Linked DNA regions of Homo sapiens. The protein of the gene in region 1 interacts with the protein of each later gene in a biochemical or structural test. Each region holds a gene or a part of one and is shown in the gene's direction. Other genes may lie near its edges.

Region 1 (4,413 bases):
CAGCCTACACAGTACTGTAGTTAGTACGTTAACTAAGTTCATCACTTGTAAGCATAATGATGGATAGACATGGAGTGAGAACAGGGTCAGTACTGGGGTGTAGGTGGAAGCTTTGCTCTTGACAGATGTTATCATTACTTTTCTTTTTTTATTTTTAAATTAGAAATGGGTTCTCACTATGTTGCCCAGGCTGGAATCGAACTCCTGGGCTCAGGTGATCTTTCCACATAGCTGGAACTATGGGTGCAAGCCACTGTGTCTGGCTTTACTTTTCTTCATTGCCTAAACAATAATTTAAGTTATATGTTAACACATAATCTTCAAACTGGTCTTATGGTATTCTGAATACTAAACATCAGTTGTTAACAGACCAGGAACTTTATCTGATTCTTTGCACCATCTCCCAGCATCTAGACTAGTGTCTGGCACCCATGAATATTAGGTACCCAGAAATGTTAACATGAATTAATTTTCCAAAAGTGGTTAAATTAGTATATCTGAAGATTAACTTACTGTAGTGAGATTTTAATCATGATCTAGCTTAAGACGAGTTTTGAAGGCAAGAACTGTCTTTTTTTAGGAGTTTTTGTATATCGTTTGGTATTTATTTATTTATTTTTGAGACGGAGTCTTGCTCTGTTGCCCAGGCTGGAGTGCAGTGGCGCAATCTTTGCTCACTGCAGCCTCTGCCTCCTAGGTTCAAGCAATTCTCCTGCCTAGCCTCCCGAGTAGCTTGCTGGGATTACAGGCATGCCCCACTATGCCCAGTTAATTTTTGTATTTTTTTGTAGAGACAGGGTTTCACCATGTTGGCCAGGCTGGTCTTGAACTCCTGACCTCAAGTGATCCACCCACCTTGGCCTCCCAAAGTGCTGGGATTACAGAAATGAGCCACTGCGGCCAGACCATTGCTTGATGTTTAATAGCAGTAGTTGGCATTTAGCAAGCAGTCATTGATAATATTGACCAATTTTATGTAATGTGAGCCTTCTAATAATTAGTGTAGTTACAAAATAATTGGAGCCATGCTCAAACTGTCAAATATTGAGAAAACTGAATTCCTGGTATTTGAAAGTGTCTAATTATTTGCGTTAATTGGTAAGCCCCTCCTGATTTTCTACTTAACCATGACACTTCTTCCGTGGCGCCCATCTTCATTCTCTTGAACATTGATACTGGAAGATTCCCAGGGTGGTCCTAGGCCTTCTCTCATTCTGTCTTGTCGATCCCCACCCCAGTCTTATTAATGCCCTTAGATCAGTTATGGACCATTTACAAATGATTGCAGAGTTTATTGTCCTAACCATGATCTCTCCTAAAGTCCAGACCTACACCTGGCTACATGACTTCTGCGCAGTCAGATGTCTAAAACCAAATTAAAGATCTTCCCTAAACCTTCTCCTAACATGTTCCCTGCTCATTAAATGGCAGAACCAGAACCCAGGAGTCACCCTTGACACCTCCTCCTCTCACCTCGTCAGATTCAGACCATCCTTAGGTGCTGGCAGTTTGACCTGTTATCACACCCCTAGCCAGGTGCCCATTGTCTCTCATTTCCACTAACTTAGTGGCCTCCTTGCCTGATCCCTGTGTCCTTTCTCCTTTGCTGTCCGTTCCAATCTGTATTAGGTGGCCAGAGTGATCATTTCCAAATGTAAATCTGATCATAACTTCCTCCCTCCAGAAAAGTAAATGTAATTTAATTTTAAGATGTTCAGATGGCTTCCATTTGGATAAAGACCAGGAAATCTTTAACATGCCTGACCGAGTCCCTGCCCGGTTGGGCCCCTGTCTGCTTCTCCAGGCCCATCTCAGCTCACACTTGCCCTTGTTCCGTGGCAGGGTTGCGTGCTTTCATTTCCTCAGACTCACTCACTGCCTTCTTCTATAGGGCCCTCACATGCTCCCTCTGCCAGGAACACTGTTTTTCCATAAAGTCAGCTCCTCGTTGTTAAAATCTTAACTCATTGACACTTCCTCAGGGAAGCTTTCCCTCATCCACCCAGACTGGCTTTGTAGCAGGGTGTCCCTACTGTCAGTGTTGTGCTTTTACATTTGTTACCTCATTTGATGAATGACTGCCTTCCCCCTAGCACCTAGCAGGATGCCTGGCATAGGGTAGACACTGCATAAATATTTATTGAATAAATGAATGAGAGGGATAATGGCATGGCATGTTCAAATTAGTGGATCCACTGTTTTTCCTGTTTAGTCAGACGTAGTTTAGGACATAGCTGAAAAGGTGTTAAATGGCAAAAGTCTAGACTATGGTGTTTCAACACTGTAGATTTGTGATAGACTCATTCAGAGGTACCTGGACTTGTAGACGTGCCTGGTGGCTCGAGTGAAATAGGACAGCTTAATGTAGTAGAGAGCAAATAGCTATACTGCATGACAACTTTATAGGTAAGAAGAGTCTGCTATGTGTATATAATTATTCTGTACTTAATAGGGAGTTAAGAGTGCGTGTGTGTATATATATGCATTTATATATTCACACATACATCTGTGAATAAATATACACATAAAGGTGTCATGCATTAATATAATTATTCTTATTTTTAAAGTTCTCAGAATGTCATCTAAACTTAAGATATCATTTTTAGAATTCTTATCTGATAACCCTACTTCATCCAAAATTCATTAATTTGATCATAATTCAACTTGGGATAAATAAAAGTTCACATTTCCATTGAAGAAAATATTTGTTAGGCAAGTACTCCATGAGATTGCAGAAGCCAAGAACCCATGTAACAAAACATTTCAAAGTTTACTGTTGGTAAGTAAACCCAGCAGCCTCTCTTATCTAGAACATGGGTTAGCACTAAGAAGTAAGAAAAAATACTCTAAGCAGCCAAAGGACCTGTAACAAAATATGTGCTTTGAAGCACTTTGATTTTACACTTAGTAGAGTTCCCAGGGCATTTGCTCAGGATTGATACTTATTTCAGATGTTGTTCATGCAGTGTTGTTCATGTGGTGTTCCTAACATGCAGCAATTAGAAGCAGCCAGTTAGAAGGGGTGGCGGTGTGAGTCCTGCAAGAGGCAGGTTCCCCAAAGGCAGCAGTGTTGGCACACCTGACAGTGAGAGGAGAGAGGGAGAATAGGACTCAAAACATTGCAGTCGGGGGCCACCTAGCATTGGTACAATTAGTTCCATCTAGGGCAGCCTCTGCCATTTAAAAATATACTCAGTGAAGTGAAGTTGGAAAGCTTGTAATATAGATTAAGGAAAATTACTATCCAAGATAGTTATAGAAAGTGTCTTGATCTTTGAAGTGGTAAACCTCTAACTGTTCTGTAAGATGTATTTCTGTAGCCTTGATGATACTGAATAAATATGTACTTTAGAATTACATAAAAATGGATGCTGCTTACCGAATGTCTTATCTATTATCTGTGTGGAGAAATCTTTTTTGTTATTGTTGACCTGAGTCATTTTATACCTTGCAGTTTCTTTAAAATGCATAATAATCACCACTACCACTAATATACTGATCTTTTCCGGTTTTTTAAAAAAAATTTTTATTTTTTTTTTTGAGACGGAGTCTTAAAGATATTTTTCTTGCTCCAAGGGTCTAGATTCTTCTTTTTTTGTTGTTGTTGAGATGGAGTTTCGCTCTTGTTGCCCAGGCTGGAGTGCAATGGCACAATCTTGGTTCACCACAACCTCCGCCTCCCAGGTTCAGGCAATTCTCCTGCCTCAGCCTCTTGAGTAGCTGGGATTACAGGCGCCTGCCACCACTTCCAACTTTTTAAATTTTTGTATTTTTAGTAGAGACAGGGTTTCACCATGTTGGCCAGGCTGGTCTTGAACTCCTGACCTCAGGTAATCCACCCGCCTCAGCTTCCCAAAGTGCTGAGATTACAGGTGTGAGCCACCATGCCCGGCCAGGTCTAGATTCTTAAATAACCAAATTTCAAGTTTTGTACAAAGATTGAAGGAAAGCTAGTCTTTAACCAGGAAGAAAAGGATTTGTTAAGAGATTATCAGCCGTATCTTTGCTGACTCATTGATACTGTGGTGCCTAAGACATCTTGGCTTTTGTGACAGAATCCTGCATACAACTTTCTCCAGGATAGTTCCTCCAGGAGGGACCCCTCTGCCAGGCACTGTGGCAGTCACATGTCCAGGCTGCATCTCTGCCCTGCTCAGCCTCTTCATCCTTGCATTCAGATCTCCATGTGGTTTAGGGTGCCCATCAGGGTAAACACTGCCATTGTCTCTTTAATTGCTGTGCTCTTACTCTTCTGGCTTTCACACCTTCAGCTTCCAATCAGTCACCAGTTCTTGTTATTGCCACTCTCCTAGTAGCCTGAGAATCCATCCAACTTCCTCCACTGCCATGACTGCTAACCCAGGGTCAGGCCACTGTCAACCCACTGTCAACCTTTTCTTCACCCTCAGAATG
Region 2 (4,413 bases), on another chromosome or scaffold:
TGGATTCCCACAAAGCTAAGATTGATGTCTTCCTCACTGGTGGAACCCTTGATTTGTGTATTACTGCACTTACCAAGGGAGGGTTTAAGGAAGAGCACAAAATTTGAAGTTAGACAAAGAGCTACTTGGACACTTATTTAAATCTCTATTTGTTCATTTGAAAGAAATAATACCTAACTTACAGAATTCTTGTGAAGATTAATAATATATGTAAAAGTGAATTGTAAGATACTGAGCTATATAGATGTTAGGTAGAGTAGTTTGTAATTTTATGACTATGATTGTGTGTAGCAGTGGTTTTAATTTCGGCTATGCACTTGAATTACTTGTGAAGATGTAAAGAGTTGCCTTGGCATCTCTATTTTGAAAGGTTTATAGGTGATTCTGATATGCAAAGTTGAGAAGCACTGCCTTATATTAACAATGTTTTGCATAAATGTCTTATGTAAGTATTATATGAAAAGTAATATTTTATTGCCATTTAAAGTTCATTCATTTGCTAAATACATATTATGCATCAGGCATTGTCATAGGTTCTGAATAAACAGATGAATCATAGCCTCTACCCTTGGGTTTATAGTTTCCGGGAGAAACAGACATGTGCATAGACAATTACACTACATTGAGACAAAAAATGACAAAAATATGGAGATAAGTGCAAGTGCCATGTGAACACAGAGGAAGGGCATCTGCTGCACTTGAAATGGGGGTGGCCTGGCAAGCATTCTTAAAGGAGGTGACATCTAAGATGGGTTCTGAAAAATGATCAGGGGTTAACGAAGCACAGTCAGGGAGGGGTGAGAAGAAAGGGGAGATGATGGACCCTCTTGAAAGAGAGAGCAATATGTGAGCAGAAGATTTGAGAGCCTGTTTGGGGAGCCCTGTGTAGTTTAGTATGCTTAGAAGATAGGGTGTAAAGTGGGGAGGCGTGAGAGCAGAGAGGAGGCAGGGCCCAGATGATGAAGGGCCTTTTGTATAATGTACAAAATACTTTTACTGATATTATCTGACTTTATTCTTTGGACAATCCCCTGGGTTAGCTAGGACAGGTGTTGTTTTATATTCATTTGATAGAAGAAAACACAAAGAGGTTAATTGACTTGCTGAGGCTATACAGCACAGCTAAGATCTGAAGCCAGGTTCTTATGATTGTTTAGTTCATCATGCTTTTTCTATTACACCATAGCCGTCTTAGACTTTTGCGGTGTGGTAGGGAATCAGGTAAGCTCTGTGGATATATGCACAACAATTTGGAAGCTGTAATGTGCTAGACTGATGTTGGCTAACTCATTTTACAGATGAGGAAATTTAGGAGCAGAGACATCAAGCTGTCATTTGAAGACTTTTTTTTTTTTTTGAGATGGAGTCTTGCTCTGTCGCCCAGGCTGGAGTGCAGTGATGCGATGTCGGCTCACCGCAAGCTCTGCCTCCCGGGTTCACGCCATTCCCCTGCCTCAGCCTCCCAAGTAGCTGGGACCACAGGTGCGTGCCACCATGCCCGGCTAATTTTTTGTATTTTTAGTAGAGACAGGGTTTCACCGTGTTAGCCAGGATGGTCTCAATCTCCTGACCTTGTGATCTGCCCGCTTCTGCCTCCCAAAGTGCTGGGATTACAGGCGTGAGCCACCTCGCCCGGCCTTGAAGACATTTTTAAAAATTATTACTGTGTAACCACAGCAAGTCACTTAACCGTCCTGAGACTCAGTTTTCCTTAGCTGTCATATAAATGTGTTGAATTTGATGCCAACTTCTTTGCTTGAATATTTCGACAGTGATTCTTAACCTTCTCACCTACTCCCTGCCCTCACCCTTTCTCTGTGATACACTGGGATGTAGTCCATCAGTAACAGTATTTCACTATGGAAATAGTTCCCAATGGGCTACAGGAACAAAATGTAAATTGCCAGTTTTGGGGATGGGTAAAGAGGGACTTGGTATAGTTGGAGGGGCTCTTGGTTCTCCAATTACCTGTTAGAGAATTACTATTAATATTTTATTTATTTATTTTTTTGAGACAGGGTCTTGCTCTGTCATCCAGGTTGGAGTACAGTAGCTCCATCATAGCTCACTGCAGTGCTGCCCTCCCGGGCTCAAGCAATCGTCTCACTTTAGTCTCCGAGTAGCTGGGACCACAGGGGCATGCTACTAAGCCCAGCTAATTTTTGTATTTTTTGTAGAGACAGGGTTTTGCCGTGTTGCCCAGGCTGGACTCAAGTGAACTGCCCGCCTCAGCCTCCCAACGTGCTGGAATTACAGGCATGAGCCACTTTGCCCGGCCAAGAATTACTATTTTATAACATTCCCTCCCACTTATTTTCTCATATGGAATTATCTCACCAGTCCAGAGTCTGAGATTTTTTTGGTATCCAGGATAGATTTTGCTTAATTTAATAAATTACATATGTAATTTGTAAAGTAACTTAAAAAAAAATAAAGAACCAGGTGAGCAAAATGAGAAAGCCCATTGTGATAGACTTGAAAAGTCCAAGTTTCCTGGACTTTCTAGAGATTATATATAGGATTATATATATAATTTTTGTGCTTTACTGTTTTCAAAACCCTTTTATATAGAGTCTCATTTAACTTAATTCTGTTCTTTAGCCATCATATTTTTATAAATGAACAGAAGTTAAGTGGCATGATTATGTAGCTGGGAAGTTACAAACTGGAATCTTTAATTCATATTTTCTGTCTCCAAATCTGGTCACCTGTTCCTGATCATTTGGGTGCTGCCCTGACCAGTGGCACTTTTTAAAAAATTGTAGGTTCCTAGGAGAATGGTAAAATATATTTATAGTTCCCTCTAACTCTTTCAAAAAATCGTTTTTTTACTATCCATTGCCACTTGCCGGATAATTGACTTAGTTGACTATGTGGTAAAGGTTCCAGGACAGTTAGGAATGGCTGCTGAGTATATTCTTCACACACACACAGACACACACACAGACACACACACACACACACACACACTCTTTCATGTATGTACCAATCCAATACAGCTGGTCCCTGACTTACAGGGGTTCAACTTAATGATTTTTCGACTTTATGATGGTGTAAAAGCAATATGCATTCAGTAGAAACCATACTTGGAATACCCATCCAATCACTTTCAGTGCAGTATTGAATAAATTACATGAGATATTCATCACTTTATTAAAAAATAGACTCTGTGTTAGATGATTTTGCATAACTGTAGGTGAACGTAAGTGTTCTGAGTATGTTTAAGGTTGGGTAGGCTGAGCTACGATGTTTGGTATGTTAGGTGTATTAAATGCATTTTTGACTTAAAGTATTTCAGTGTAAGTTGGGTTTATCAGGTCGTAACCTAATCATAAGTCAAGGAGCATCTGTACAGCTCTATAGTGCTTCTATTTATTCCTTAATTAGACTACACATATTTATTGATTTCTTCCTGTGTGCCAAGCATTGTACTTAGTACTAAGGATACACTCATAAATAATACAGACATGGTCCTTGTCCTTGCTCTTACAAAGATTACATTCCAGAGGGTAATACAGAGAAAAGTAAGTAGATATACAAGTGGACAGTTGCAGATTTTGATAAGTCCTACAAAAGAGATAAAGGACTAATGTAGAGAATTTTGGAGTGATAAGGAAAAGACCTCATTGAGGAAATGATGCTTTTAAACTGAGATGTGCATGATAAATAGATTTTAGTCATGCAGAACACTGAGGGGGAAAAAGCATGTCAGGCAGAGGGAACATTTTAAATGCACAAAGGCCCTGAGAGTAGGTAAAAGTTTAGAGATGTGCTGCTCAATATGGTAGCTACTTAGCCAGTGTGGCTGTTGAGCACACTGACTGATTCACATAGAGATGCACTGTAAGTGTAAATAAAATACATACCAGAGTTTGAAGACAATACTGAAAAAATAATGTAAAATAACTCATTAACTTTTTATATTGGTTATATGTTGAATTGTTAATATTTTGAATATATTGGGTTAAATGTATTTTAAAATTAATTTCACCTCTTTACAAACTTTAAAATATGGCTACTAGAAAATTTGAGATTACATATGTGGCTTTTCTTTAAGGCTAACCGTATCTTTCAGTTGGATAATGCTGGTTTACCTCAACATAGAGGAACTAAAAAAAATTATGGCTGTTGTATAGGAAGCAAGAGTAAATGGTATGAGATGAAGTTGGAGTGGGAGGAAGAGACCTTTCAAAACGCTACCCTGTGTAATATCCTAGTTAATCCGAAGGGACTGAGAGGGGATTATCAAGTCTGATTTTATAGATGGAGACAGTAATTGCCAAAGTCTCTCTTCTCCTCTCTAGAGTGCTAGAATGAGGAGATGAACAAGCACTTTTAGCATAGTATCTTGGGAGTAGAATGCTCTATTTCATTGTTAGCTAAAACAAACAAGTAAATAAATATTGATGAAGA
Region 3 (4,413 bases), on another chromosome or scaffold:
AAGATGGGAACCCATGTAGAAGACTCATGTCCTGGTACCTCTTGTGTGTCTCGCAGTTGAAAGTTATTTATAATGAAATGAAGGTAGACATGTTCTCTGAAGCAAAGTTGGAATACTTTGTTATCTCTGAGTGTGTGAAATCTTTAGATGGAGTATCCTCCATTTTATCTAAAACAAATATTTTAAGAATCAGATTAACTAAAATTACTTAGGTAGGTTGATCGCTTGGCCTTAAACTTTAAAGCCAATGTCACATGAGACTGGGCCTCAGTGTAGAAAATGTAAGCTAGCATACTTAAACTGGTTTTAAGGAGTGACCCAACTTTCATGCATAGGGCAAACATTCACACATATTTTGTGCGTGGTGGGCATGCAAATACATACATATTTATCATTTGAAAGCATTTTTTGCTCCTATTATGCTCATTTAAAAACCCAGCTGAAAGTGTTTATTAATAAACTTCCTAAGTGATGTTGAAATGTTTACACTACCCTGCTCCAAAATGAGTCAGCTAAATTCCAGTTAATATTTAAAGAGACAGTGTCAACTAAATTAATACTGTTGTTAAAAGTAAGTTGTGGATCTTGGTCACTCCACACAAGCTAGATTGTCTTAATATTTGTATGGTGCACTTTTACTTACAAAAGGGAAGATAAAATGTTTTGGGGAATAATTACCAGGGGTCTGGCCAGGTCAAAATTGGTTAGTCCCCTTCTCCCATCTTCTAATTTTGGTAGTTAATACTTGTTAAAACATCGTTTTTTAATAACTCACTAAAAAGTGTATTCTAGTATGTAGTTGGAAAAAATGACTGACCACAAGTTACAGCACACGAATTTTCCTTTAAGCAAATGCTCTCAAATATGCTTTTTGTACATATGCTTATACATGTTTAAGATGACATGAAAACCCTCCACAACTTTATTTTAAAATAATTTTTCTTTAATATGTATTTTCTCATCCAGAGGAAAACTTATTAATAATTTAGCACAGCGTTTTAACAAGACTTTTAGAAAAGCAAATCTTCCTTGGAAACAAATGCTTGCTATGTAAAGCTTTTTCTGGTAACCCAGCATTGAATATTAACCATTACTAAAGGTTATGTGTATATATTGACTTTAATACATTGAATTTGAGCTTGGAACGGTTTTATTATTTTCTGGTATGAGGAAGACAAGCACTTGTTAAAATTAATAGTGCCTTTGGCTGAGAAATCTGGTTCATAATTTGTGTATTGCAGGTTCCTAGGCACTGGCTTTGACATACTCTGAAACTTCAAATGGAGAACGTAAAAGGAGTTTCGTAAACCAGCTGACCCTAAATTCTTAGAGATTTACTTGTTGGTGCCAGGGTAGCAGGAAGGGCTACCAGTTCTCTTTTCAGCCTTATATGAAGATGTTTCAGCATTAAAAAGTACAGATGCTCTGCCTCAGCAGATTTGTCAAATTACTGATGAAGCCCAGATATGTACAGGTGTTTTAAGAAAACTTTATTCATCCAGTTTAAAGAACTACCTATAAATATCAAGACTCAGTGATAATTGTGATTAGCCAATTAAGTAAAAACATTTGAAATGGTCTGCCTGTAGTGCAGCAGAGTGAAAAGTTAAAGATACCAGTTTCCCAAATTGATTAAAACATAACCCTGAGAGCTAACAGACCTTTTCATAAATTGAAACCAAGAATAGTGATAGGTAAAAATACCCTAATAATTGATAAAATTTCTTTTTGGGTTTTTTTTTGGTCCTAAAACAGTTTGCTTTTATAAAGGCAACAAAATATTGATAATTATCTCTGCCCACCCTTTTTAATGATTAACGGAATTTGGGCTTTTGTTAAAACTTGCGTAGCAATTACAACGGTATACCGATGATTATATTAGACTATATTTTGGTGATAACACTAATTTCTGAAATTTCGTTTCATCTATAGCAGAAAAATATGGCTCAGGAGACTAACCAGACCCCGGGGCCCATGCTGTGTAGCACAGGATGTGGCTTTTATGGAAATCCTAGGACAAATGGAATGTGTTCAGTTTGCTACAAAGAACATCTTCAGAGGCAGCAAAATAGTGGCAGAATGAGCCCAATGGGTAAGTTATTTCCAAGGAAAAACACATTTGAAAGAACTGGTGGACAGAAATACAGAACCAAGAATTGGGGCTGAGAATGCTGAAAGCACATGGAGAGAACACCTGATAAGAGCTTGAAATTCAAGCAACAGCCCAAGTGCTTGACATGACTGATCAGGAATGAATGACTATCTACAAGCATCTTATAGCTTTTCAGTTTTCTTTTTTGGGGTTATTTTGTTTCACACTTGTGTTCATTGGATTGACTTTTTAATATTTTTTGTTTGGATACTCAAGTATAGGATTACAGCACAGTGAATGCTTATATCACTAACCTAATTAAATGCAAGTATTTATTACTACGTCTTGATACTAAGTGAGTTTTTGTAGTGTTCATTGGTTCCTTACAAATCCTTTTTTTAAATAGGAACAGCTAGTGGTTCCAACAGTCCTACCTCAGATTCTGCATCTGTACAGAGAGCAGACACTAGCTTAAACAACTGTGAAGGTGCTGCTGGCAGCACATCTGAAAAATCAAGGTAAGATTGAACGTTTCAGAGTTTTTATGATATTACAAAGAAGAAATCAAGATGTCTGTACTGGTCCAATAATAAGTTAATAGATACCCTTGGCTTTGCAATCGAGGATTTCAGTGTCTTTTAATACATGACTCTTAAGTCATTGAGTAAAGATGTGTGTTACTTACACCTGACTCCCTAACCCCCTCAAGGATACTGTGTTGGAAATGCTGTGCTTTTTTATTTCTTTGTAATTGAGGTTTAGGGATTGTCGAGTGAGACTGTAGAATATTATTGGGCCAGACAAGGTGTTTTGGCAGAGCTGCCCTTTTGCCCTTAAACAAGTTACAGGCACAGCTAAAAATCCCTAGCTGGTTGTAAAATATGGTAACCTATACAAAATGCAGCCTCGAGTTCATGAGCCATTTATCAAACTTTTTTCTCAACCATTTGTGCTGGGCATCCAATTTTTTTTTAAACTTTAGATTATCTAGCTCCATTTGCTCATTTTGGAAATATTCTATAATTTAAAGTTGAACTGACAACTTATTCATTGTCTCAAGAAGTACCCTTAACACCTTTAAAAATTGTTTGCTTGAACTCAAATAGAAATGTGCCTGTGGCTGCCTTGCCTGTAACTCAGCAAATGACAGAAATGAGCATTTCAAGAGAGGACAAAATAACTACCCCGAAAACAGAGGTGTCAGAGCCAGGTATGTTTTTCATTTAATACTTGTTCAGTTCTGAATTTGATAGTGCAAGAAATGGCTGGTGGGGGGATTCTTTCCTTCCCATTGAAGGACCAAAGAGGAGGGAGAGCCATAAAATATAGGCCAAGCAAAGAACTACTATCTTTAAAAGTATCTTGAGTATGAGTATCTTGAAGTGTAAAATAGTCATATTTATTCTCAGTTTCTTCTCTGCTCATCCCCTGCACTACCCTTGTGCATAATGGGCAAAGTCTGTAATCTGGAGATTGGATGTGTTAAAAACTTGATGAAGTTAAATTTCAAGGGTATAAGGAATAATTTTATAACCAAAAGCAGTAACTTTAGTTTTGATATTGTCAATGTTGTGGAAAACTTTTAAGTAGAACAACATATTTGAACACTAGAACTTATTTGAAGTACAATATTCCTATCATATTTTGTGGGAGTTTGAAACTCAGTGTGGAAAGGCATTTTGGTTTTCATGAGATATGGTGACTTTGGAAACTTTGCTTATATAGCACAACCAGAAGTGCCCTGATGGTGGAAGAAGACTGACTTGAATTACCTGTACTAGGCCCTAGAACAAAAAGATTTCTGTGCTTTATATAGTGCACGTAGCTTATTTTATCAATTTGTTCTTTTTTGGCAGAGTGCTGATTAAATGCAATATAAAACTTCTGTTGTGAAAAAATACTGTCAGTGGTTATACAGTCTGCTTTGGAGGCTGGCTTTTGCTAACAGCAGTCAAGTTTGTTTATTGTATTAATCTTACAAAGTTAAGGCCAAATTCTCAAGTTTGGCAGGTGAATCTATATTTGGCATTTTGAAATGAGCTCCATCCTTAAACTGACCACATTAGTTTGCCCGTGATGCCTTTGTTTGGGTTTTTGTTTTTGGTTTTGGTTTTTAAATACAAAATTACTCTGACCTTGGAAGAATAGTCTTGGGTTAGAGCTAGTCTGCATTTATTATTACTTAGTAGGCATTCTGTGATTCACTGCTATTTGCCTTTTCTGTGTCATTTTCTTATTCCCCCTTCTTCCCTTGTCTCAGGAGCCGTAGTTCATTTTTCAGATGTGGCCAAAGAAATGGCTGACACCCTCCCTCTACCCCA
Region 4 (4,413 bases), on another chromosome or scaffold:
AACTACACTTTGAGAAGTAGACACTTCACTGTGCAGCTTTTTATCAAATAACCAATGTAACATCGTTGACTCGCTTAAGGGGAAGTTTAGAAATCCATTTGTCTTTTCTTCTGAATCTTGTACCTTTTTGAGTTAAACTTGAGCTCCTGATAATAAAGTGATGACTCTAATAGTGTTAATCTTGTGTCACAGATGAAGACTAAGGGAACAGAACCACTTTTATATTTAGATTTCTTTTACCTGAAGGAATCTAAATGAAATGTAGACTTGTTCGTGTTCTACAGGGCTTTCACTTTGTGAATAGAGCAGTAAGTTTGTGTGCTTTTCAGTTATTCTGTTATGTGAGTTAGTTCTTCTACTTGTCAGAAAATATGTATTGTGGAAGAAGAAGAATTTTATGAATCTAGAATCAAGTTTATAGCAGTATACTCTGAATAAATAACTGCACAGTTCCTGTCAAATGTGAGGGGAACCCATTTGACATCTTTACAGAACTAGTCAAAAGATTAGAAAGGGAGTACACATTATTTTTTCCCACTTTAAAATTGAAGAATGATATGATGTATGGTTATAATGCATTTCACTAATTATTGCTTTAATTGTGTAAAGGCATTTCTTTTGAAGAAGCTCCTGTTTTCTTCGGAGAAGTCTTCTTGGCGGGATTGTTCAGGTATGATAGCTGTCTTTTAAAACTTTTGCTTCCTCCTCTGTTTTAATAGAGATGATCTAAAATTATCTGAGAAAGTCAAGTATCAGTGGGAATTTTTTTTCCTGAGGTTTCCTTTTAAAATGTTTTAGAAAGTTTCATGAACAGTGACTCCATATTTCCAAATTTGGCTTTCTAACCAGGGGTTATAAGACATGATGGTATAACTAAGGGAAAAACGTTTGGCCTCTTGGTAAAACACGGTGCATTTCCTAGAACTGTTAGGTGGCAGCATGCCATAAAGAACAGTCTTTTTTTTTTTTTTTTTTTTGTAGTCTTATTTAGCTGTGGGCAAGACCTCAGAATTATCATTATATTCCTGCATGTTTTAGTATAATGCCTTACACAATGCAAATACTGCAAATAATTTTGGATGAAATTGCAAATGAAGCTGTCATAGCTTCTGTAACATGAGCTTCTGTACCCAGAGAGATGTGTGGTGCCACCTTATAATAACAAGAATTTGCATTCCACGTGACAGTTTACAAAGATCTTTCCTTCACTTACACAATTTCCTGTGAACCTCACAGTAAATTCTGGAAGAAGTTAGGACACATTACAATCCCAGTTTTGTATCTAAGGATGTAACAGCTTACATTCCAAACCATGACTATAGAATCTACTAATGATTTTGAATTTAAGAGTTAAGGGATCACTTCCATAAGTTTTAAATTAATAGGTGAAATACAAAACAAATTTTAGTAGAGAAGAAACTATTTGAGATACTATTTTTGAAATGAACTTTTAATAAAATTTATACTATTTCTTATACTATATTCACTATATTCACTTTGATAAAACATTTGTAAAGCATTGTCATAAGTGTCATAAATACTGTGGTGATTAGAAAGTGAACAGCATAGTTCCTGCAGTTAAAGAACTGTTAATCCATTAGGAGAGACAGAAACCTCCTTGTATCATAAAATTTTTGAAAGTTTCAGAAAGTAATACTACTTCTTGAGAGTAATACTGCTTGAAAAGAGTGTGGCTAAGGTTCATAAAGAGATGGTCTGAGCATTTGCGCCATTTTCTATAAAATTCTAATGCTCAAATCTGTATTCTAACCACTGGCTTCTGCTGATGTAATGGACTTTGGTAACATATGTGCTGACGGTCTCTCATCTCATTATTCTTATCCCTTTGGGACGGGGTGATCATAGACGTTAGATTAATTCAGATGTGAGGGAAAAAAAATAGAGGTTTCAACAGGCCTTTACATTGTGCTCAGTTCTTCAGTAGAGGAAACCTCTTGGCTTAAATGCTGCAGTTGCTAAAGTTTTAAGAAAGTGATGATCAGTGTCACATTATGATCTTTCATAATGTTTAGTTCTGCATTTTTCAGTATTCTTTTTCTACTTGGTGGTGTTATTTGGATGGCTTTATTTAAAGTGGTGATATTTTAATCCACAAACACATTGTTTTTCTAAGACATAATTTAAAATCTATTTAGAGATTTTTCCCCCATTTTTAAAATGCTTGATTTTCATCATTAACCCATTCTTACTATTGTTATTCATGACAGAATTTTTTTTTTTCCAGAGGAAACCATTATAACTTATGCTTTGGTTATTTTTAGAGGAAGAGCAGAAGGAACTCCTTTGTCATACCTTGTGTGATATTTTAGAAAGTGCTTGTTGTGACCACTCTGGATCATACTGCTTGGTTTCATGGTTAAGAGGAAAGACAACTGAGGAAACTGCTAGTATTTCTGGGAGTCCTGCAGAGTCTAGTTGCCAAGTGGAACATTCTTGTAAGATATATTTTTATTTCCTGAAGTTTTTTTCTTGTTCCTTTGTTTTAATGAATCTATTGAATATTTTGAAGAAAAAATTACTTAAAATTTTCATAACATGTATTCTTTTCCAGCTTAAGCTTAATTACTGAGCCTCACTATTTTTTATTTCCATATCATTTATTTTAACTACTTAGAAGATACTACATTTTTGCAAAAAAAAATGCATCTCTTAAACTTTTAAAAATGTTCTGGTTAACTTCTGCTTGATAATAATCTCTTTTGAGCTTTAGAACTCTTATTTAGAAATAATGATATGCTTCAGTTTCAGATGCCTTAATGTTTTGCTTTGGTATTGCAAAAACGGATTTTTTTGGACATCAGAAGATTTCATAAAGTTATCTTTACTTGCTTCCCAGAGCAAAGATGGGGACATTTCTCCTCATTGCAAGCTGTTTCTTTTCTTTCCGAATTATTTGGATATTTTTATACATATAGATTATTTTAAGGCAATTTTAATTATGCCTTAAGTTTTTCATACCTTGAAGATAAGTTAAATAATAGCTGTTTACGTTAAATAATAGCTATTCTCATTATTCATAAAAATTATATATTCTGTGGTTTTTAACTTTTGAAAATTGTTATGTAATTGACCCGAAAGCTGCCAGTGTGAAATGGAGACAGCTAGTGGTACGGAAGCTAGTTAAGAGTTGCTTTTCTGATTTGCTTTTCAGGAATAATCTTGCTAGTTGATGGTTTTTTATAATTGGTAGTCCCAAGTGCTTATGTTAAATAAGTGACTTATTCTACCCACAGAGCATCACATTAACTATCATCTTTGTGGAAAGTTTTCGTAAAGAGATTACGTACCTGAAAGTACACTTCAATTGTATGGGATACACATTTTGCTTTCCATATAGTATTATCTATAAGGTGCTGTTGCCTCCCTGGACTAAAATGCCTCTGTGTTGTCAGTGTCTTTTTTCTCCTACCTCTGCAGTTAAAATGCCTTAAGCCTGGCAAATTCTAATAGTAGTAACATTTGCAAGGAATAATTTTGAACATTTGAACAGCTATATGATGCTTCCTTTTGAAGCCTTTGAAATATGGCCTTTCAAAAAGAACTTAACATATTTTAGAGTTTATAATGACATTTGAAGACAACAAGTGGAAAACAGTCACAAGGATGCTAGTCCAAAGTGTCACTAAGATTGGTTTTAACATATTCTCCAGGTTTTACTGTGTGGGTGTTAGCACACTTAATAGGTTCATTTAGGATATTAAAATTTTGAAAGAGGAATTGTTGATCTTTTGAAAAGGTATTTTAAAGATTTTGTGCTTAAAGCCAGTCTGTATATTGATGTGAGAAAATAGTAAGATCTTTTTATATAACATTTTCCATTAGTATCTTAACAGTATACTGAGTGCATACTATGAAATATGCTATGCAGTTCTGTGGTGATACGTCACGTTGCTATAGGTTAAAGGGCCTTATAATGCATTCCCTTTGGTACTTCAGTAACTAATTTAGATGGGCATATTATATTGAATTACCCTCCAGAAAACATTTTAGTAATTTTTCCAGTTTACTTTGTATCTCATTTTAAAAGTTGCCATGAAGTAAACCATATTTTAAATTTTTTAAATAATGTATACATTTGAAATACTTTGTTAACTGAAAATTTGAGAATTTACCTTAGTGACAAATGAACTGTATTTATATTACAATTTTTATTCCGTGTAACAATCTATTTTACCTGTTCTTTCCTTTATTCCCAGCTTTGTTCTTTTTCTTGTGTTTTATATTTTTTCACCATCCCTGCCTGCTAAGCTTTTTATTTTGCTTGCCTCTTTTCTCTAAATTATTATCTTTATGTCTACTCTTGTAGTATACCCAGTAAAACTATTTAGATAATCTAATGTTGCAGAACAAGCAGTATAATTTGGAAAAGATTAGGTAGAATTTTCATTTTCT
Region 5 (3,500 bases), about 120 Mb from region 1:
CAGTGGCTAACACCTGAAATCCTAGCACGTTAGGAGGCTGAGGCAGGAGGATTACTTGAATCCAGACTGGGCAGCAAAGCGAGACCCCATCTCTACAAAAAATAAGAAAAAATTAGCTAGGCATGGTGGTACATGCCTGTAGTCCCAGGTCCTTGGGAGCCCGAGGCAGGAGGATTGCTTGAGGCCAGGAGTTCGAGGCAGCAGTGAGCTCTGATTGTGCCTCTGCACTCCAGCCTGGATGACAGAGCAGGACTCTGTCTTTAAAAAATAATAAATGAATGAATAAACAAAGACAGGCCTCTGTGCTCAAGAATGTATATTGTGGCATTTAGAATAGCTGAATATAATATAAAGAACTTCGATGTAAAAAAAAAAGTGGAATGGTTATAATTCCTCTCCATTACATAAGTTATGTACATTAATTATAGGAAATCCTAAAACCACAAAAAAGCACAAGGAAGAAATTTAAGATCACTGATAAACCTACCACCACTTGAACATTGTTATAAATTTTTTTAATTTTATACACAACACACACCCCTATATACGTACACATTTATTTGTAAAATTGGGATAATACTTTTTTACAACCCTTCTTTATGTAAGAATATATCACGGCCTTTTCCCTCATCATTAAATATTCTGCCACATTTTAAAAATTACTGCATAACATTCCATTATCTAAATACATCATAATTTAACCAGGCCACTCTCGTTGGATTTTTAGATTATTTTCGGTTTGTTACTATTATAATTAGCATATAGGGAGATAATTTTTTGCAATTTGTGATGGTTTCCTTAGATTAAAATTTAAATTCCTGGAAGTGCAGTTTCTGGGTGAGACAATCAATATAAGTATATTTTAAGGCTCTTGATTTGTAATGCCAACTTGCCCTCAAGAAAGTTAAACAAACTTAAATTTTATGGAAAGTTTTTAATAACATGGGGACATGCTTGTTACATATTAGAAAAATGCAGAATCAGGCCGAGCATGTTGGCTCATACCTGTAATCCGAGCATTTCGGGAGGCTGAGGTAAGAAGATTGCTTGAACTCAGGAGTTTGAGGTCAGCCCGGGCAACATGGTGAAACCCCATCTCTACAAAAAATACAAAAATTAGCTAGGCGTGGTGGCACACGCCTGTAAGCTGAGGTGGCAGGATTGCTTTAGCCTAGGAGGTTGAGGCTGCAGTGAGTCATGATCGCACCACTGCACTCTAGCCTGGGTGACAGGCTAGCCCTGTCTCCAAAAAAAAAGAAAAATGCAAGATCAAAATCCTGTAAATAATAGCGTTATTTTAACTGTGTAAAAAAATGTATAGAACAGGAAACTTTCCGAGGTAACTGAAATGTTCTGTCTTGATTGGAGTGGTGATTACATGGTTACATTTATCAAAATTCATTGAATTGTACATTTAAGATCTGTGCATTTCACTGCATGTAAATTTTATCTTAATTTTTAAAGATAAAATCTGTTCAACTATTTTGATTGGCTAAATATTTTGGCTAAGAGAAAACAGAAATTTGTTGGAGAGAAAATAGGAGATATGCCAAATGTTATAATGTTTTATCTTTGATTAGTGATTCTCTGAATGACTCTGAAAACTCTACATTTTCAGATCTGCTACAATGTGTGTATGGATATATATGTGTGTGTTTTGGTTTTATGAGATCAGTACAAAAATGCAGTCACCCAAAATGGTATTTACTTGTAAAATATGATATTGATGATCCCTTCATAATAACAGTACTGTGTCACATTTGTTAGAATTAGGGGAAAAGTTTTATTTTAAAAGAGGAGAGGAAAGCTTGCTGTTTCCTTTTCTGCCAAATTAAACTGAGAAAAAAGGTGGCTTATTCAGATTCTGCCACGCTCTGCTTTTGGAATCCCTTATGGCAGTGTGAAATCGTCATCTGCTAAGAATATCAACATTTTTACACACACACACACACAGAAGATTTCAATATAAGAAAACACAGAACTTTGTGAGAGTGCTGTTTTTCTTCTCTTGCTTTTGATCTATTCACAGGGAAGAAAGAAACCAGACCCAAGTGCTGAGACAACAGCAGGATGAGGCCTACCTGGCCTCTCTCAGAGCTGACCAGGAGAAAGAAAGAAAGAAACGGGAGGAGCGGGAGCGTAAGCGGCGGAAGGAGGAGGAGGTGCAACAGCAAAAGTTGGCAGAGGAGAGACGGCGGCAGGTAATGGACGTGTGGCTTTACTCCCTGTGGTTCCCAAACTGCCGAGACTTTGCCATCTTGGTCTTAAGTGTGAAAGGAAAAAATGATAGCCACCTTAAACAGACTAAGAGGGAAAAAAAAAAAGGAAAAAGGAAAGAAAAAATTACAACATGTTGGAATTAGGGGTGATTTAAATTTTTCATACCATTTAAATATTCATTCTTTTTTAAATAAAAATTTAAAAAAAGAGACGGGCTTTGCCATATTGGCCAGGCTGCTCTCGAACTCCTGACCTCACATGATCTGCCTGTCTTGGCCTTCCAAAGTGTTGGGATTACAGGCGTGAGCCACCATGCCTGGCCCTAAATATTCATTCTTAATACCAGTATTAGCTGATTTGGCATTTTACTCATTATCTTTTTGTTTTTGTTTTGTTTTGTTTTGTTGTTGTTTTTGTTCCCTAGCAATCAGACTGAGATATACATTATCTTATTTGATTATGTATTACCGCTTACCTATAACCAGTGTCTTTTAGTCATTTCCTTTTATTTCTTTTTTTTTTTTAAGAGACAGGGTCTCACTGTGTTGCCCAGGCTGGCGTGCAGTGGCTATTCACCAGTGCAATCATGGAGCACTACACCCTGAAACTCTTGGGCTTAAGAAGTCCTGCTGTGGCCTCTGAAGTAGCTGGAACTACAGGCACATACCATGGCACCCTGCTCCCTTTCTCCTTTTTCTCAAATAAATACCTAGACATAATAAAGAATACATGAGATGCAATTGTACTTTAAATTTAGGTTGTTTTTGACTATTCCTGAGAGGTTTTTCTTAGAATACTTAGTCATTAATTTTTCTTCTGACGACTGCGTAATAAAGCTACATGGTCATTGTATTTATTTCTTGAGCTGTAGCCTCACCTTTGCTTTGTGTCTCTGCAGAATTTACAGGAGGAAAAGGAAAGGAAGTTGGAATGCCTGCCCCCTGAACCTTCCCCTGATGACCCTGAAAGTGTCAAGATCATCTTCAAATTACCTAATGATTCTCGAGTAGAGAGACGATTCCACTTTTCACAGTCTCTAACAGTAAGGACCACCTAAGTTCTGTGAAGTGTATGTAGCATCTGGGCTATAGATTTGGAGCTTTTACTGACTCTTGAGAGTGGTGTTGGTGTATCTGCTGCTCTGATGAACAGGGAACAGAGAGAGAGAGAGAGAGATGGGTATGCCATCCGTGGACACCAGGAAGAGTACCGAGGACTGCTGTAGGCTCCTTCAGTTCTAGTTTCCAACTCAAAGCAATTTTTAAGTTTTTGTTTAATTA
Region 6 (4,413 bases), on another chromosome or scaffold:
CTCTGAATTGTGGCTGGAGCAAAAGGTTTGAAATCTTTTTTCTTCCCAAGAAGATGAAAGAGCTCCTGGAGGACAGAAACTGCTTTTTATTCCCTTTGTATCTCTCACAGCACCTGATACTTAAGACTAAACTATTCTTTCACTCATATGCCCATTATCAATGTCAGCATTGTAAGGCCCTGATGGCAGGATCCATATTTTAGGGAGCTTTGTGTTACACATAGTGAATAAATTATATGGTCATGTATCACCTAACAATGTTTTGGTTAATCACAGACTGCATATGTGATGGTGGTCTCAAGATTATAATGGAGCTAAAAAATTCCTATTGCCTGTGGACGTCGTAGCCATCCTAATATTGTGATGCAATGCATTACTCAAATGTTCTTGGTGATGCTGGTGTAAACAAACCTACTGTGCTGCTCATAGTATAAAAGTATAGCACTTACAATTATGTACAGTAATACTTGATAATTATGTTACTGGTTTATGCATTTATTATACTATACTATACTTTTTAATCATTTTAGAGTATACTCCTTCTACTTATTAAAAAAAGTTAGCTGTAAAACAGCCTCAGGCAGGCCCTTCAGCAGGTATTCCAGAAGGCATTGTTATCAAAGGAGATGACAGCTCCGTGCATGTTACTGCCCCTGAAGACCTTCCAGTGGGACAAGAGGTGGAGGCGGAAGACAGTGATGGTGGTGATCCTGACGCTGTTTAGGCCTAGGCTAATGTGTGTGTTATGTCTTAGTTTTTAAGAAAAAAGTTTAGAAAGTAAAAAAGTAAATAAATCTTAAAAATAGAAAAAAGCTTATAAAATATTTCTGTACAGCTGTATAATGTGTGTTTTAAGGTAAGTGTTGTTACAAAAAGAGTCAAAAAGTTAAAAGTAAAAAGTTTATAAAGTTAAAAATCTATAGTAAAGATTAATTTATCATTGAAGAAATATATTTTTTATAAATTTCGTATAGCCTAAATGTACAGTGTTCATAAAGTCTGTACACTACTGTACAAGTGCTATACAGTAATGTCCTAGGCCAAGCTTGTTCAACTCACGGCCCACGGGCTGCATGCAGCCCAGGATTGCTTTAATGTGGCCCAACACAAATTCATAAACCTTCTTAAAACATGAGATTTTTTTGCAATTTTTTTAGCTCATCAGATATTGTTAGTGTTAGTGTTAGTATATATGTGGCCCAAGAAAGACAGTTCTTCCAGTGTGGCCCAGGGAAGCCAAAAGATTGTACACTCCTGTCCTAGGCCTTCATATCCACTCACCACTACTCACTCACTGACTCACCTAGAGCAACTTCCAGGCCCGCATGCTCCATTTATGGTAAGTGCCCTATACAGGTGTACCATTTTTAATCTTGTATACCGTATTTACACAGTACCTTCTCTGTGTTCAGATACATTTAGATACACAGATACCTACCATTGTGTTACAGTAGCCTACAGTGTTCCATACAGTAACATGCTATATATGTTTGTAGCCTAGAAGCAATAGACTATGCCATATAGCCTAGGTATGTAGTAGTAGGCTAAACCATCTAGGTTTGTATAAGTACACTATGATATTTACACAGCAATGAAATCACCTAACAATGAGTTTCTCAGACCGTATCTCTGTCTTTAATGCAATAACTATATCGGTTAAATTTGTTTATTTAAGTCCAATATGATTAAAATGGGCTAAATTGTTTCCAGAAAGATTTGACTATTTCCACTTTTGCCTATGTTTTCTTTATCACAAAATGTATCTTTTATCTAGTCTTTCTTTATGAAATGTAGCCCTCTTAATACTTTTTCCCTAATATATTTGCTATCCCTAAAAGATAATATTAATTTTAGTCTGATTTTGCACATGAGTCATATTGTGCTTTATACTGTGGGCATATAGATGTTTAATAATGCTTTTTAAAGCAACAAAAAGTATAAAGCATAATGACAGAGAATATAATTGTTTCAGCTCAGTTTTCACATTGCAGGGTGAAGCAGCTGACCGATGAGGAGGAGTGTTGTATCTGTATGGATGGGCGGGCTGACCTCATCCTGCCTTGTGCTCACAGCTTTTGTCAGAAGTGTATTGATAAATGGTAAGTTACCTACTGCATTCATGGGCTGGGCCAAGGTCAGTGGGATAGTGTACATGAATAAACTTTGAAAAGTGCAAAAATACTGTAGTTAAGTATGAGAGAGATTTTATTCTTTAGTACTTTGAATTTTATGGCATGCCTTCTACTGGTTAAAACTATTTTTGTTTTTACACCTAACATTTATTAAATATGGGGGTGTACCTTAGTTTTGACACTTTTCTTTTGCTGTATGAAAATTTGTGCCTGACTTAAGTCTAAAATCAAACATTTCCCTTTTTCCTCCTTTTTTTCTCCTCATTTCTACATTTATTCTGTGTATGTGTTTAGAAGGAATAAATTCTTGAATACTGGACCTCAGGGAACTTTAGAGATCAGCTAGTCAAGTTCATTATTTTACAAAATAAGACTTGAGCGTTTAGGATAATTTATAAAATACATACAATAAACTACATGTATTTAATGTACAGTTTAATATGTTTTGGCATATATACACACCCATAAAAGTTATGAATTTTTATAAATGGAATCATATAATATGTGCTTTTTTTGTCTGGCTTCTTTCATTCAGTCTAATTACCTTGGTATTTATTCATGTTGTAGCATGTATCAATAGTTCATGCCTTTTTATTGCTGAGTAATGTCTGTTATGTGGATACCATAGCTTGTTTATTCACCTATTGAGGGAAATTAGATTATTTTCCATATTTATCTATTACAAAATAAAGGTACTAGATACATTCATGGACAAGTCATTTTATGGATGTATTTTGGTTTTTTTCTTGGGTGAATACCTAGACATGGAATGGCTAGATCATATGGTATGTGTGTGTTTAACTTTTTAAAAAGCTGCCAGCTATTTTCCAAAGCAGTCTTGTGCCATTTTACACCCCCACTAGCAGCATATGAGATTGCATTGAATAAATATATCAATTTAGGGAGAGTGAATTTCTTACTAGTGCATCTTCCTATCCACATACGCTGTATATTTCTCCACTTATTTAGGTCTTCTTTAATTTCTGTCACCAATTTTTTTAGTTTTCAGTGTTGCATATCTTTGACATCTATCCCCAAGTATTTCATAGTTTTATGCTATTTTAAATGGTATTTAAAATTTCAATTTATGATTGATACTAGTATATGGAAATACAATAGATATTTGTATATCAACCTTGTATCCTGCGCCCTTATTAAACTCATGTATCAGTTCTGGTAGTATTTTTGTAGATTCCATAGGCTCTTCTTGAATGTCCGAATATCATTTTTCAAAGACTTTTTTTCTGATTCAGAATTCTAGACTTGAGAGTATTTTTTCTTTCAGTATGTTAATAATGTTGCTTCACACTCATCTTGTTTGCATTGTTTCTAATGAGAACTCTGTCATCCTTTTTTCCTCTGTAGGTAATGTGCCATTTTTTCCCTCTGTTTTTAAGGTTGTTTTCTTTTCACTGGTTTTGAGCACTTTGATTATGATGTGCCTTAGAGTAGTTTTTTCATGTTTCTTGTGCTTGGGGTTTATTGAGCTTCTTGGATTTGTTGATTTACGGTGTCATCAAATTTGGAAATTTTTCAGCCATTATTTTTTCAGATTTTTTTCTATCTTCTCTCCCCTCTCCTGTGATTCCAATTACCATGTATTAGCCCACTTGAAGTTGTCTCACAGCTCACTGGTGCTATTTTTTTCTTTCTTTTTTGAGTCTTTCTCTGGGTTTCATCCTGGATAGTTACTATTGCTATCTCTTTTCATATTCACCATTTTTCTTCAATGTCTAACTTGCCATTAATTCTATCCAGTGTATTTTTTTAACCTCAGATAATTTTCATTTCTAGAAGTTTGATTTGGGTTTTTATTATCTTTCATGTCTCTTCTTACTATCTTTGAGCTTTCCTCTAGTTTTTTAACTATATAGAATATAGCTATAATAACTTTCCATTTTATCTGCTAATTCTAATATCTGTGTTAGTTCTGGGTGGTTATGATTGATTTTTCTCTTTATTATAGATTATATTTTTCTGCTGCTTTTTTGTATGTCTGGTAGTTCTCAACTGGATGCCAGACTTTGTGGCAGACTTTGTGAATTTTACCTTTTTGGGTATTGGATATTTTTGTATTCCTATGAATATTCTTGAGCTTTTTTTCTGGACTATAGTTAAGTGACTTGGAAACAGTTTGATTCTTTTGGATCTTGCTTTTGTGATTTGTTAGGCAGGACCAGAGCAGTATTTAGTTTAGAACTAATTATGTCCCACTAATAGCAAGACCCTTTAGAGAACTCTACTGATACCCCAAGAGTTATGAGGTTTTCCAGTCTGGCTG
Region 7 (4,413 bases), on another chromosome or scaffold:
TGCCCCTCACGGCCGGCGCCATGGCAAGCAGTACTCTCCCCACTTTATGGTAAAAGAGACGGAGGTTCCGAGAGGACCTGGGACTTCAGGGCCTGCGCAGGCAAGGAGTAGAGGCAGCATTCCAGCTCAGGGCCCTGACCCCACAGCCACACCCTTTTCCTGGGCCACTGCCTTCCCCTGGACAGGCGGCACTCCTGTGCCCAGTAGGTGATTTTGAGATTGAGCTGTGCCTTAGGCACTGGATACTACACTGATTAAAACTCAGCCCTCTGCCAGGCGAGGAGGCTCACACCTGTAATCCCAGCACTTTGGGAGGCTGAGGCAGGCGGAGCCCTTGAGCCCAGGAGTTCGAGACCAGTCTGGGCAACATAGGGAGACCTTGTCTCTGTTTTTTTTAAAAAAGTATTAAAAGAAGTAAAAAACAAAACACTCAGCTCTCCAGGGGTTCCCACAGGGCTGAACAGCCCCACCCCAGACAAGAATGCCGCTTGGTCATGGCGTCTGCCTGGCTTGGGCTGGAGAGGAGGCAGGTGGAGGTCCTGGGAGGGGGCATTGCTGGGCCTTGCAGTTGGAGGAGGAGCTGGTGGGGGTGGGGGGTCCCACGGTGGGAGAACACAGGCAGGAGCAGCTTGAGTGCAGGGGGCACCCCACAAGGCTCCCGCCCATGCCTACTCGATCTGGGGCAGCTGGACCCAGGAGCCAGGTTGGTTGTGCCCTTCGTGTGCCTGACCCTGGTGGGTTTGCCTGTCAGTTCTGCTGGCTTGGAGCAATCCTGGAGGTCAGAAGCATCATCTCACAGGCTGGATGGGATCCTGCTCACGGGAACCCAGTCCTGGGGAGCAGAGCTCACCCCCAGCCAGCCTCACCACACAGCCCACCACCGCTGCACCCACCCCCACCTCACGCCTGTGCTTCCTGCAGGGCCTGGGGATGGCTCCTGGGGGAGGACTGGGCTCCTGGCACATACTCTGTCCTGAGATGAGGAAACGTGTCTGTGGCACCAGCAGGAGCCAGAGAGGGTGTCAGGGCGGGCCAGGGAGAGCGCGTTGGTGGGTATCTGGGATGAGCCGTGATCAGCACTGGCCGGAGTCGGGGGGCTGGCACCAGTCCCCTGCAGGGTAGCTGCTGTCAGACCTGGCTTCCCACCACCCCAGGCTGCCTCACCATGTCCTGACTGTGGCGTCATGGGCCTCAGTGTCCTGCGGCAGCATCCCTGGCCGGTGGGCGGGGGAGGAGGAAGCCTCGGGTCCCAGCCCCTCTCTGATTGTCCGCCCAGCTCCATCGTCTACCTGGAGATTGACAACCGGCAGTGTGTGCAGGCCTCCTCGCAGTGCTTCCAGAGTGCCACCGACGTGGCCGCATTCCTGGGAGCGCTCGCCTCGCTGGGCAGCCTCAACATCCCCTACAAGATCGAGGCCGTGCAGAGTAAGTGTGGCCCCATCCCGGGAACAGGCTCTGCCTGCAGGGGGTGCCATCCCCCCGTGCCCCAGACACGCTGGCTGTTTGTGCCAGTTGCTACCCACGGGTGTGAGCGTTGCCGTCCGAGTTGGGGTAGGGCTTTTCTGGAATTTTCTGAATGGCACTCCGCCCCCACCTGCGGCGGTCACAGCTGCCGGTGGAGCCACCTGGGAACGAGTCCAGCCACGGGAAAGTGGGTGCCTGCTTCTCTCCCCACCCTTTCCTCCTGAATTTTCTTTGTTGGGTATTATTTCAAAATCATTACGGCTTTTTTTAAAGAAAAAAAAAGAGAGAGAGAGAAGAATTGATCGGTGTCATGTGAAGTGTTGAAGTTTGTATCTTGAAAATCCCTCTAAATCCTTTGTCTTAACAGCTCAGTGCGAGTGCAGCGATTTGAAGTTGACTAATCCTCCTTCCTTAAAGGAGAAAAAAGTAAAAGCCGTCTCCAGATAGAGTCGGCTGGTGCAGGAGAGAATTTAGCGATAGTTTGCAATTCTGATTAATCGCGTAGAAAATGACCTTATTTTGGAGGGCGGGATGGAGGAGAGTGGGTGAGGAGGCGCCCGGACGCGGAGCCAGTCCGCCGCCCCCCGGCCACCAGCCTGCTGCGTAGCCGCTGCCTGATGTCCGGGCACCTGCCCCTGGCCCCCGTGCCCGCAGGTGAGACCGTGGAGCCGCCCCCGCCGGCGCAGCTGCACTTCATGTACGTGGCGGCGGCCGCCTTTGTGCTTCTGTTCTTCGTGGGCTGCGGGGTGCTGCTGTCCCGCAAGCGCCGGCGGCAGCATGGCCAGCTCTGGTTCCCTGAGGGCTTCAAAGTGTCTGAGGCCAGCAAGAAGAAGCGGCGGGAGCCCCTCGGCGAGGACTCCGTGGGCCTCAAGTGAGCGGACGCCGCCCCTGCTTCTGGGTCCCCGGTGGGAGGTGGGACCTGGCCGAGCATCCTCACCGGGAGTCTGCCCCTCCCGACCCAGGGCCCACCTCCCACGCCAGGCCCGGGCCAGGGGTCTCTGGGGGCTTCCTAGGGAGCTCGCTCAGCCTCACTTCTCGACCCCTCACCCCCCAGGCCCCTGAAGAACGCTTCAGACGGTGCCCTCATGGACGACAACCAGAATGAGTGGGGGGACGAGGACCTGGAGACCAAGAAGTTCCGGGTGAGTCGCGAGGCTCCCGGGCTCCTGGGCTCCCGGGCACCTGCTGCCGGGCTGCCCTGACAGGCTCTGCTCACTCCCTCTATGTAGTTCGAGGAGCCCGTGGTTCTGCCTGACCTGGACGACCAGACAGACCACCGGCAGTGGACTCAGCAGCACCTGGATGCCGCTGACCTGCGCATGTCTGCCATGGCCCCCACACCGCCCCAGGGTGAGGTTGACGCCGACTGCATGGACGTCAATGTCCGCGGGCCTGGTAAGGGTGCCAGCAGCCAGGGCTTCCCTAGCCCCGTGGCCCACCTGCCTCTCTCCCCTAAGCCCCGAGGCTGGGGTACAGTTGATACTCTGGAAACTTAGAATTGGGGGTGAGAGCTTTCATCCTTGGGGTGTTTCCCATTCAGAGTAGACGTGGGGGGGTCCTGGAGTCCTCCTGTTCTTCCACCAACCCCTTCCTGGGGTGATACCGCAGGGCCACTCTGTCCCTGTAAATTACTCTTTTCTGAAACCTTCTTGAGACATGGAAAGCGTTGATTTTCTTTTTCTTTTTTTTTTTCTTTTTTTTTTGTTTTTGAGATGGAGTCTCGCTCCGTCACCCAGGCTGGAGTGCAGTGGCACGATCTCGGCTCCCTGCAACCTCCACCTCTCGGGTTCAAGCAATTCTCCTGCCTCAGCCTCCCCAGTAGCTGGGACTACAGGCGCCTGCCACCACACCTGGCTAATTTTTGTATTTTTAGCAGCGATGGGGTTTCACCATGTTGGCCAGGCTGGTCTCGAACTCCTGACCTCAGGTGATCCGCCCACCTCGGCCTCCCCCAGTGCTAGGATGACAGCGTGAGCCTCCGCATCCTGCTGAAGCATTAATTTTCTAACTGCATGCTTCTGGGGTCCTCTTTTTCCTGGGTGGATTTTGGGTGCCAGGTCTTGGGCAGGTCAGGAAGCAGTTGCCCGCCAGGAGTTTAAGCTGGATTCGGCTCTGTCCACTGAGCAGCCCAGGCGGACTTCAGCTGCCCCTTGGTGGCTGTGTGCACGGGGCCACCAAGTGCTGGGTGGTGCATCCACACCGTGGCCCCTTGAGCTTGGGGCTGCTGCCCCCCTCCCCCTGGGCTGCAGCTGGGGACCGGCCCTCCAGACTGAGCACCCGTCTCTGCCTCTGCAGATGGCTTCACCCCGCTCATGATCGCCTCCTGCAGCGGGGGCGGCCTGGAGACGGGCAACAGCGAGGAAGAGGAGGACGCGCCGGCCGTCATCTCCGACTTCATCTACCAGGGCGCCAGCCTGCACAACCAGACAGACCGCACGGGCGAGACCGCCTTGCACCTGGCCGCCCGCTACTCACGCTCTGATGCCGCCAAGCGCCTGCTGGAGGCCAGCGCAGATGCCAACATCCAGGACAACATGGGCCGCACCCCGCTGCATGCGGCTGTGTCTGCCGACGCACAAGGTGTCTTCCAGGTAGGCAGTGGCTGCCTGTGTGCCCACCTGCCCTCCTCAGGGCCGCCTGGTGGTCTGGGGCAGTGGCCAGGCTTACGTGGCCCTGGGAGCCTGACCCCGAGCACAGCTGAGTCCGGGACAACTGGTGCCTCCACCTGGGACCTTCGCAGTCAGCGAGGTGCGAGGGGGAGGGCGTCGGGCCCATCTGTGTTCTCCAGGGAAGTCAGGCAGAGGCGGGTCTGGCAGGAGGCCTGGGGGATCTGCTGAGTGAGGCAGCACCTCCCCACCCCCAGCAAAACAGGCTCCATCAGGGTTGTGGGCCTTGCTCAAGGTCCAGGTTCCACTGCTGCAGCCCCTCGCAGCCCCGCCCCTCCCTCAA

Evidence for each region.
Region 2: of the proteins of MAP3K1 (region 1) and PAK1, one has a biochemical effect on the other in vitro, tested with the Homo sapiens proteins (one study listed by BioGRID).
Region 3: of the proteins of MAP3K1 (region 1) and ZFAND5, one has a biochemical effect on the other in vitro, tested with the Homo sapiens proteins (one large-scale study listed by BioGRID).
Region 4: of the proteins of MAP3K1 (region 1) and MINDY3, one has a biochemical effect on the other in vitro, tested with the Homo sapiens proteins (one large-scale study listed by BioGRID).
Region 5: of the proteins of MAP3K1 (region 1) and FAF2, one has a biochemical effect on the other in vitro, tested with the Homo sapiens proteins (one large-scale study listed by BioGRID).
Region 6: of the proteins of MAP3K1 (region 1) and RNF141, one has a biochemical effect on the other in vitro, tested with the Homo sapiens proteins (one large-scale study listed by BioGRID).
Region 7: of the proteins of MAP3K1 (region 1) and NOTCH1, one has a biochemical effect on the other in vitro, tested with the Homo sapiens proteins (one study listed by BioGRID).

The regions. Positions count from the first base shown.
Region 1 is NC_000005.10:56,821,419-56,825,831, forward strand, and holds part of MAP3K1 (mitogen-activated protein kinase kinase kinase 1), read left to right. Parts: intron 1-4,413. UniProt on the Homo sapiens protein: Component of a protein kinase signal transduction cascade. Activates the ERK and JNK kinase pathways by phosphorylation of MAP2K1 and MAP2K4. May phosphorylate the MAPK8/JNK1 kinase.
Region 2 is NC_000011.10:77,463,547-77,467,959, reverse strand, and holds part of PAK1 (serine/threonine-protein kinase PAK 1), read left to right. Parts: intron 1-4,413. UniProt on the Homo sapiens protein: Protein kinase involved in intracellular signaling pathways downstream of integrins and receptor-type kinases that plays an important role in cytoskeleton dynamics, in cell adhesion, migration, proliferation, apoptosis, mitosis, and in vesicle-mediated transport processes.
Region 3 is NC_000009.12:72,358,307-72,362,719, reverse strand, and holds part of ZFAND5 (AN1-type zinc finger protein 5), read left to right. Parts: intron 1-1,932; 5' UTR 1,933-1,941; coding exon 1,942-2,092; intron 2,093-2,498; coding exon 2,499-2,610; intron 2,611-3,198; coding exon 3,199-3,302; intron 3,303-4,413. UniProt on the Homo sapiens protein: Involved in protein degradation via the ubiquitin-proteasome system. May act by anchoring ubiquitinated proteins to the proteasome. Plays a role in ubiquitin-mediated protein degradation during muscle atrophy.
Region 4 is NC_000010.11:15,839,469-15,843,881, reverse strand, and holds part of MINDY3 (ubiquitin carboxyl-terminal hydrolase MINDY-3), read left to right. Parts: intron 1-609; coding exon 610-670; intron 671-2,282; coding exon 2,283-2,456; intron 2,457-4,413. UniProt on the Homo sapiens protein: Hydrolase that can remove 'Lys-48'-linked conjugated ubiquitin from proteins.
Region 5 is NC_000005.10:176,496,885-176,500,384, forward strand, and holds part of FAF2 (FAS-associated factor 2), read left to right. Parts: intron 1-2,029; coding exon 2,030-2,201; intron 2,202-3,118; coding exon 3,119-3,262; intron 3,263-3,500. UniProt on the Homo sapiens protein: Plays an important role in endoplasmic reticulum-associated degradation (ERAD) that mediates ubiquitin-dependent degradation of misfolded endoplasmic reticulum proteins.
Region 6 is NC_000011.10:10,516,720-10,521,132, reverse strand, and holds part of RNF141 (RING finger protein 141), read left to right. Parts: intron 1-1,991; coding exon 1,992-2,099; intron 2,100-4,413. UniProt on the Homo sapiens protein: May be involved in spermatogenesis.
Region 7 is NC_000009.12:136,500,194-136,504,606, reverse strand, and holds part of NOTCH1 (neurogenic locus notch homolog protein 1 preproprotein), read left to right. Parts: intron 1-1,276; coding exon 1,277-1,425; intron 1,426-2,118; coding exon 2,119-2,335; intron 2,336-2,518; coding exon 2,519-2,606; intron 2,607-2,693; coding exon 2,694-2,859; intron 2,860-3,759; coding exon 3,760-4,055; intron 4,056-4,413. UniProt on the Homo sapiens protein: Functions as a receptor for membrane-bound ligands Jagged-1 (JAG1), Jagged-2 (JAG2) and Delta-1 (DLL1) to regulate cell-fate determination.